Linked DNA regions of Homo sapiens. The protein of the gene in region 2 purifies or fractionates together with the protein of the main gene of each other region. This does not show direct contact. Each region holds a gene or a part of one and is shown on either strand. Other genes may lie near its edges.

The links. Proteins that work in one complex are often made in the same cells at the same time.
Region 1: the proteins of PCDH8 (region 2) and SYNGAP1 purify together in Homo sapiens (co-immunoprecipitation; one large-scale study listed by IntAct). This does not show direct contact.

Annotation. Positions count from the first base shown.
Region 1 is NC_000006.12:33,447,433-33,451,083, reverse strand, and holds part of SYNGAP1 (ras/Rap GTPase-activating protein SynGAP), read right to left. Parts: intron 3,255-3,651; coding exon of another isoform or gene 3,242-3,254; coding exon 3,151-3,241; coding exon of another isoform or gene 3,148-3,150; intron 2,296-3,147; coding exon of another isoform or gene 2,281-2,295; exon of another isoform or gene 1-2,280. UniProt on the Homo sapiens protein: Major constituent of the PSD essential for postsynaptic signaling. Inhibitory regulator of the Ras-cAMP pathway.
Region 2 is NC_000013.11:52,846,530-52,850,280, forward strand, and holds the start of PCDH8 (protocadherin-8 isoform 1 precursor), read right to left. Parts: upstream 2,112-3,751; 5' UTR 1,908-2,111; coding exon 1-1,907.

The sequences.
Region 1 (3,651 bases), on a different chromosome or scaffold from region 2:
ATATATTTTGAAGACATGCATTTCATTAAATAGACACTGTCATTCCGTTTGTCACTTATTCACAGTGGCCATCTTCTCAAATATAACATTCCAAATTAGAGAGAGGTTTAACTGTACTGGGGGGAAAGGAAGGGGATTCAGGGAAGTGATATGGGAAGGGAAAAATCTTGTGGGAGGGCTGCCCCTCTCTCTCACAATTATGGCGGAAATGACTAGGAGCTTCTGCAGACACAGCATGCCCCAATCTCTGCATCCCTGGGAAGCAGAAACTGGCTTTATTCTTTTCCACTCCCATCTTCTTTTCAGTCCTTCTCCCTGGGCTCCCAATTAGAGGGTGAGGGGTACCAGACCAGCTCCTACCCCTGGTTCTACTCTCATCACCTCCTATAGCTCCTTGACCAACTCCTGGTTCCTGCCCTTAGCTCCGCCTTCTGTTCCTCTGCTGGGAGAAAAGAAAGCCATCTGAATTTCCCTACGCTTCTGGTTGGGAAATTCACTTCCTTCTCTCTTTGGCTGTTGTAATTATCTGGGGTTTGTACTGTACATGTCCGTGTGTGTGTGTGTGGGCTGGGGGCAACACTTGGCTTTTTAAAATTCAGGCTCAAAACTAATTTCTAATTAATGGCTGAGTTGCAGAGAGACCAATACCTACCACAAGTGGTTTAGAACAAATGTCCAAATTATTTCCTGGGCCACATGGCATTTAGGCTTGGTAATATAGCTATGTCTGACCTTAGGATACAAAACCTTCCAAGTAAAAGCTTCTATATAAGCTCTCCCTTCCATCCTAGGATCAAGGAGCTAACCTCTCAGATCACCCAAACCCCAGCCTTGGGTATGAGATACCCAGCAAAACTGCCTTCTTAGCTTGCTGGGTATCTCACACATTTTCTGCAAGTCAGTGAGAGGAAATCACTTATGGTAGGGTATCCTGAGTATGGCGGGAGAGCAGGGAAGGAACCCCCAGATTCCATTCCCTCTGTTTGTCTGCTGGTGACAGCACATAAGCATGCCCTGGACACCCCCATGGACCCAAATTTAGAAAGTGGATAAATTAGGGTGCCATTATTCATTTTACAAAAGAATTCACTGCAGGAGTCCTTTAAATGGCAAAGTCCCCTGGTGCCTTTTAGCATCTTTATAGATCACCAGCTACTTTGACAGAGAGGCTGGGCAGGCAGAGAATTAAAATTACAGTGTAAGGAGCCACTGCCCACTGCAGCTCAATCCCAAAGAAAATCGCATCTCAGAAATGATGGCTATAGCTGACAGGTTCTCATTTACTGGCTTTTTAGGTAGGGTGATGTGTCCGGCAAGGCCACTCGATGGCAGGAGAGGGGGAGTGAGTGGCATCAGCAACCTGGGGATGTGAGCTGTGAAGAGTACATTCTTTACCATGCTGTTCCTGGCACCTCTCCCTGGGAATCAACATGCCTACTGAGCCCACGATCTGATCTAGGAGGATGTCTCTCCCCATTTCTAAACTCCCAGGCCACATGATCAAGTCCATGTCCTAACATCTGCCTGAGGTTCCTTTCTTGCTCCTTCTTGTTCCATCCACCCTGCCTAATGTCAGGACATCTCAATAGCATTTTTTCCAGGGTATCTCAAGTCTCCCTGAGTTAACTACCCACTCCTAATTCCCACCCAATGGGGGCTAATATGAGCTTCAGATGCCTTCTGCCTCACAGATATAAGGAGGAGGAAGAGAGAGAATCAGGTGAGGAGTGGAAAGGAGGGTAGAGAACCAAGATTAGGGAAGGAAGAGGGAAACCCAACCTACCTGCTGCAGTCAGCACAGCCCCTATAGCCAAGATCCTCCAACCCATCATTGCCTCCACCCCATTAACAAACCCACCCCCAGCCCCTAAGGACGCTCTGGTGAAATGGGGGGTGACAGACATACACTGGAGAGGTAGAGGAAGAGGAGGGCTTAGAGTCAGGAGGAGGCTGGGAGGGGGTGGGTTTTGCAGGGAAGTGGGTGTGACCTGTGAATGTGCTGGGCCCATCTAGGGCCCAACTCTTGGTGTTGCTAAGGTATTGTTGGACAGTTCTGGGAAGCAGCAGCAAATGCTCTCTTTGGGTGGTGTCTTGGGAGATGGATCTGTGCAGGTGTCGGAGGGCTGGAGTCTGTGGAGGTTCTCTGGGTGTGGAGGGCAGCAGTGAGAGGGGAGAGGCTCCGGAGGTGTTGGAGGGAGTGGGCTTCACGACCAACCTGCAGTGGTCCGGAGTCACCTCCCCCTGTGTCCTCCGCCCGTGGCCAAAGCGGAACCAGGAGAATTACCTGATGAGGAGCTGCAGTGGGAGAGAGTGGGGTCATGGGGTCAGGAGCCTTGGTGGGGGGATGGCAGGCGGGGGGAGCCTAGCAGTCAGAGCAAAGAGGAGTATGGGTAGGAAAATGAGCAGAATTTTGGGAAAGCAAGGGGTAAGGGTGCAGAAGGGAGGTCCTAGAAGCTGGCTTGTGAGAAGAGAGGCTGGGCAGCAGGCAGCTGGGAAGGTCTGAGGGCCAGAGTGGGAGGGAGGCCAGAGGGAGGCTGGACTTAAATACTGAGGGCAAAGGGAGGTTACAGGATGGAAGGCCTTCAAGATCTGAAGAGTCAGGAAGAGGAAGCTATGCAGGAGCTGCCAAGGAGACAGGAAAATTAGGGAGCCAAGAGAACAGAGGTGATGGGTCCCCAAGTTTTCAGGGTACCGGCCAGGGCCTGGAGAAACTACAGATCATACTGCCCTGTGCTCTATTCCAGAAAACGGCAGCTTCTAGCCCTCTGGCCCAAGAGCGCAGAGGAAGCTGAACAACGTGGCTTGAATAGGAGTGAGCAAAGAAGGGGCAGGGGTTCTTGGAACTAGGTGGGGTCTAGGGGCAGAAAGACCAAGGTTCTGGTAGAGAAGGTCCTGAGATGCAGAGAGGAGTGGGAAGACTGGATGGGAAGGCACAGGAGTTGGGCTGACGCTGCCAGGAGTGACAAAGGCACAGACGATGGGATGAAGATGGGGTCACTAGGGGGCTGCCAGGAGCAGCCAGTGGACAAACAGCAGACTATGAGAGACAGATGGTGATGGGGCTAGGTGGCTGGTGTAGTGAGTGCACGAAAGACAGTGGGATGGATGGGGATGGGACACGGAGAAGATAAATGACATTGTAATTTCCACCTGAGCGTCGAGCAGCCTCTTCTTGGGTTCTGGCAGCGGCTCAGCCATGGCGGGGTGGTCCCGGCGCAGCTCCTCCTCCACCAGCATCAGCCTGAAGGGACGGGCTTCAGTGGGGTTAGTGGCGGGCACAGGCTCAGAGCCTGCCCATGGAACCCCATAGCTCTCTGGAAAAACCTCAGGCATCCTTATCCCTTAGAATCAGAGTCCCTCCATTGCCGTGATGCAAGACTCCCTGTTCCTCAGGATCATGCTCTCCACCTTCCTCCCAGGAACCCTTACACCTCCCTGCTAAGGCAGCTTTCTGTGCCTCAAAGACTTCTACCATCCAGACACCTCCAGGCCTCCATCGTCCCAATCAGGACAGCAGTGCCCCTTCCCCAGACCTTCCATGGCTGAGGACCTGGCTTCTGCATCCCCCATGTCACCTCACTGTGAAGATCCTCGAGGTGATTTATCATAAAGGATATCAATTAGAGCAGTGGTTTTCAAAAAATATTTCAA
Region 2 (3,751 bases):
ACACGGGCCACAACCGTGTCCTTTGCGGTGCGCCCAGGCACCGCCACTTCTAGGGAGCCATTGGCTGGCGCCGGGTGCACCAGGACTGGCGCATGGTCGTTCTGGTCCAGCACGCGCACTTGCACTAGGGCGCTGCTGGAAAGCTGAGGGGAGCCGCCGTCGCTAGCTTGGATGCGAACGTCGAGTTGGCGCAGCGTCTCATAGTCGAAGCTGCGCAGCGCGTAGATGGCTCCGGTAGCTGGGTCCACCGAGACATAAGTGGACACGGCGCCCCCGGCGCGGCCCACCTCGGCCTCCAGCAGCCGGTAGGTGACCTGGCCGTTGCGGCCCAGGTCCCGGTCGCGGGCGGCCACCGTGGCCAGGTAGGCGCCTGGCGGGTTGTTCTCGCGCACCGACACCTCATAGACCGGCCGCGTGAAGAGCGGCGCGTTGTCGTTCTCGTCGCCCACACGCACCGTGTAGGGCCGCACTGTGCGCAGCGGGGGCGCGCCGCGATCCTCGGCCACCAGCGTCAAGTTGTACTCGGCGATGCGTTCGCGGTCCAGCGACGCCGCGGTCACCACCAGGTAGCTGCCCGCGTAGGCCGGCTGCAGCCGGAAGTGCTCGTGCCCATAGAGGGCGCAGCGCACTTGCCCGTTGGCGCCCGAGTCCCTGTCCGAGGTGCTGACCAGGGCCACCAGGCTCTCGCGCGCCGCCCCCTCCGGCACCAGCGAAGTGGCACCAGCCTCCGGCGTCCCGGCTCCCGCCGGCGAGCTAGCGTCCGCTCCCCCGAGTGCAGCGGCGGCGGCGGCAGCGGCGAAGGGTGAGGTTGCCGGCGCGCCTGGGGCGGCCAGCGGGGTGATGGCGATGTCGGGTGCGTTGTCATTGACGTCTCGGATGCGCACGATGACCTTGCAGGTGGCAGCGCGGGGCCCGGGTCCGCGGTCCTGCGCCCGCACGTCCAGCTCGTAGGTGTCCTGACGCTCGTAGTCCACGGGCCCGGCCAGGGTGAGGCGGCCTGATCGCGGGTCAAGCCGAAAGAGGCGGCGCGCCTCCGGCGGGGTGCGGGCGCCAAATGCGAACACCACGTCGCCGTTAGGTCCCTCGTCGGGGTCGGCTGCGTCCAGGTCGAGAAGCAGGGAGCCCACGGGCGCGTCTTCCGCCAGCTCCACTTCGGCCACGGCGCCCTGCGGGAAGGCCGGGCTGTGGTCATTCGCATCCAGGACGCGCACGCTGAGGGCAGCCGTGGCGGAGCGCGGCGGGCGGCCGCCGTCCTGGGCCACCAGCTCCAGGCTGTAGGCGGCCTGGCTCTCGCGGTCCAGCTCCTGCAGCAGCACCAGGTCTGCGCACTGAGCGCCGTCCGCTCGCGTCTGCAGCTCCACGCGAAAGGGGCTGTGCGGCTCGGCCAGGCGCACGGTCTGCAGCCCGTTGGCGCCCACGTCCTCGTCCACCGGCACCTCCAAGGGGATGCGCGTGCCCACTGCCGCACCCTCGGACACCTCTACCGGGATCTGGGCCCTGGGGAAGCGCGGCGCGTGGTCGTTGACGTCCCTCACCTCTACCTCCACGTGCACCAGCCGGAACTGCTCCTGCGAGAAGCTGACCACATCGAAGGCCAGCACGCACTGCGGGGCCTGGCCACACAGCCGCTCGCGGTCCAGGCCGGCGTCCCCGACGGTCAGCTGCCCGTCGCCTTCGCGCACCCGGAGCAGAGAGCTGTTGAATTGCTTCATCAGGCGGAAGCTTGTGTCACCCGATACTTTCATATGCAGGTCCTCGGCCAGGGTCCCGATGACCGTGCCGGGGGCATCCTCCTCGAAGGTGCTGTATCGGACTGTTTTGCTCTGGGCCACTGAGAGCACCCAGCAGAGGCTGAAGAGCTGCAAGGGGAAAAGGCAGGGGCTGCCCCAACGCCTCACAGGACTCATGCCTCCAGCCTCAAGTGCGATCCGAAAGGCTAAGGAAGTCTTCTCTGGTTTCCAGGTCGGGCGTCAGTCTCAGGCTCTCGGAATCACGCTCTTTGCGAGCCCTGTGCGGGAGAAGTCTGCGGGTAGCAGCTCCGAGCCTCCAGCGGGCTCTGAGGACGCGCGGACCCGCCCTCACTCTGCGCCTCTCCGTCTCTTACAGAAGCTGCGCCGCCTCGCGCCGCCTTTGCCTTTATAGCCGCCGATATGCTAATCACCCGAGCCGGGTAGCCAATGGCCGCCTCCCCCTCGCGTCGCCCCTCCGCCTGCCTCTGACAATCCCTTTAATGTGGAAAGGCTTAGAGGGGAAAACAAGAAAGGAAAATTAGGGAATCTTTCTTTTGTTTAACTCCTTTTGCTTTTTCCCCCTTTTCTTGTCAGCACCCTGCATGTAGAGGAGTTGGCACAGGGCTCCAGGAGTAAAAGGAGCGGATGGTTTTGTTAATTGTCGCCTGCCTCCCTCCGTGCCGCGGCTAGAACTAAGTGCGAACACGCTGGGGTTTCACCCCAGTGGCTCCTGATTCCGCCTTCCCCCAGCCCCTGCCAACACACACACTCTGCATTTTGCACCTCTGACGCTTCCAAACCCTTGCAGCCCCCTACCCACAGACTTGCTCTGCTGAATGAGGCTCTGCTTTCCTTCTCTCCTAGCTACGGTGCCTGGAATAGCCTCTCGATTAAGAAGCCTGAAGGATAAGGGAAAATTGATTTTATTCAAATTTGTGTACTCAATTGTGTTTTGCTCGTGTGAGCCCCAGTGATCAGAGCTGCCACTTCCCTTTCAGAAAAGAGCCCCGCGATATGTTAGTATGCACGTCACTGTCCAAGTGGCCTTCTTAAGCCCTGGGAGCTAGCAGGCAAGGAAAAAAAAGTTCCAAATAGGATTTAGCATAAGCTTGAGGAGATTTGGAAAGGTTTCAAAGATCAGACTGTATCAAAGGCTTATGAAGCCCTCGTTAGCAGTGGAAATAGAATGGTGTGGCAGGCGATCCCATTGGAGGCCCCAATGTCTGTATTATTTCACTGTGACAAGCTAAGGGGAGAGAAAGTTGAACAGTTTCCACAGCGGAGTTGGACTAACTTGAATATAATGAGCAAACGCCACATGTATCCATTATGTTCCTCTATTCATCCCCAATCACTGCCATAACTCTCCGGCTAAACGGTGATGGGCGCTGAATTCCACACAATACCCGGCTCGTATTAAAGTGCATTTAGAGAACTTTTTCCTCCTGATGCCTTGTTCCGCCTATTTAGAGGATTTTCTTTCTGTTCTAATAGGGCCACTCTGGGAAGCAACACTCGTCCGGTTCCAGAAGAACAAAATCACAGCGTGACGTTGAAACCTGGCAGGAACGTGGGGGGAACTTAACCATCTGCTTAGGAAAGTGTGGAGCTTCGGCACTGCCAAAATCTGGGCTGGGCGGATCCTGGGGCTGGCCGGGCGCTGCGCTGCCCCACAGATAGCCCCCTCCCATCCCTGACGGCCAGGGAGATGGAGCTCGGATCTGCAACAAGACGGATTCTTAATGATTCTTACTGAAGGGCTTTATTGAGCAGGCTATGCAAATACACACGAAGGAGGAAAGGTAAAAAACAAAAGCCACTCACTGGAAGAAATTTTTCTTTTTAGGCGATAGGTTTGGTAAGTAGATTGAATTCAGTAAACATTCTTCAGAATCCCGATTTTGGTCCTGCTGTCAGCGTCCTATCCATGTTTTCCTTTCCCTCAAACTCGAGGGAGTGTGTTTTGGGTTTTTTTTCAGAAGAGGGTCAGGAGTTTCCTTGGAGTAGGGAGACCAAGCAGG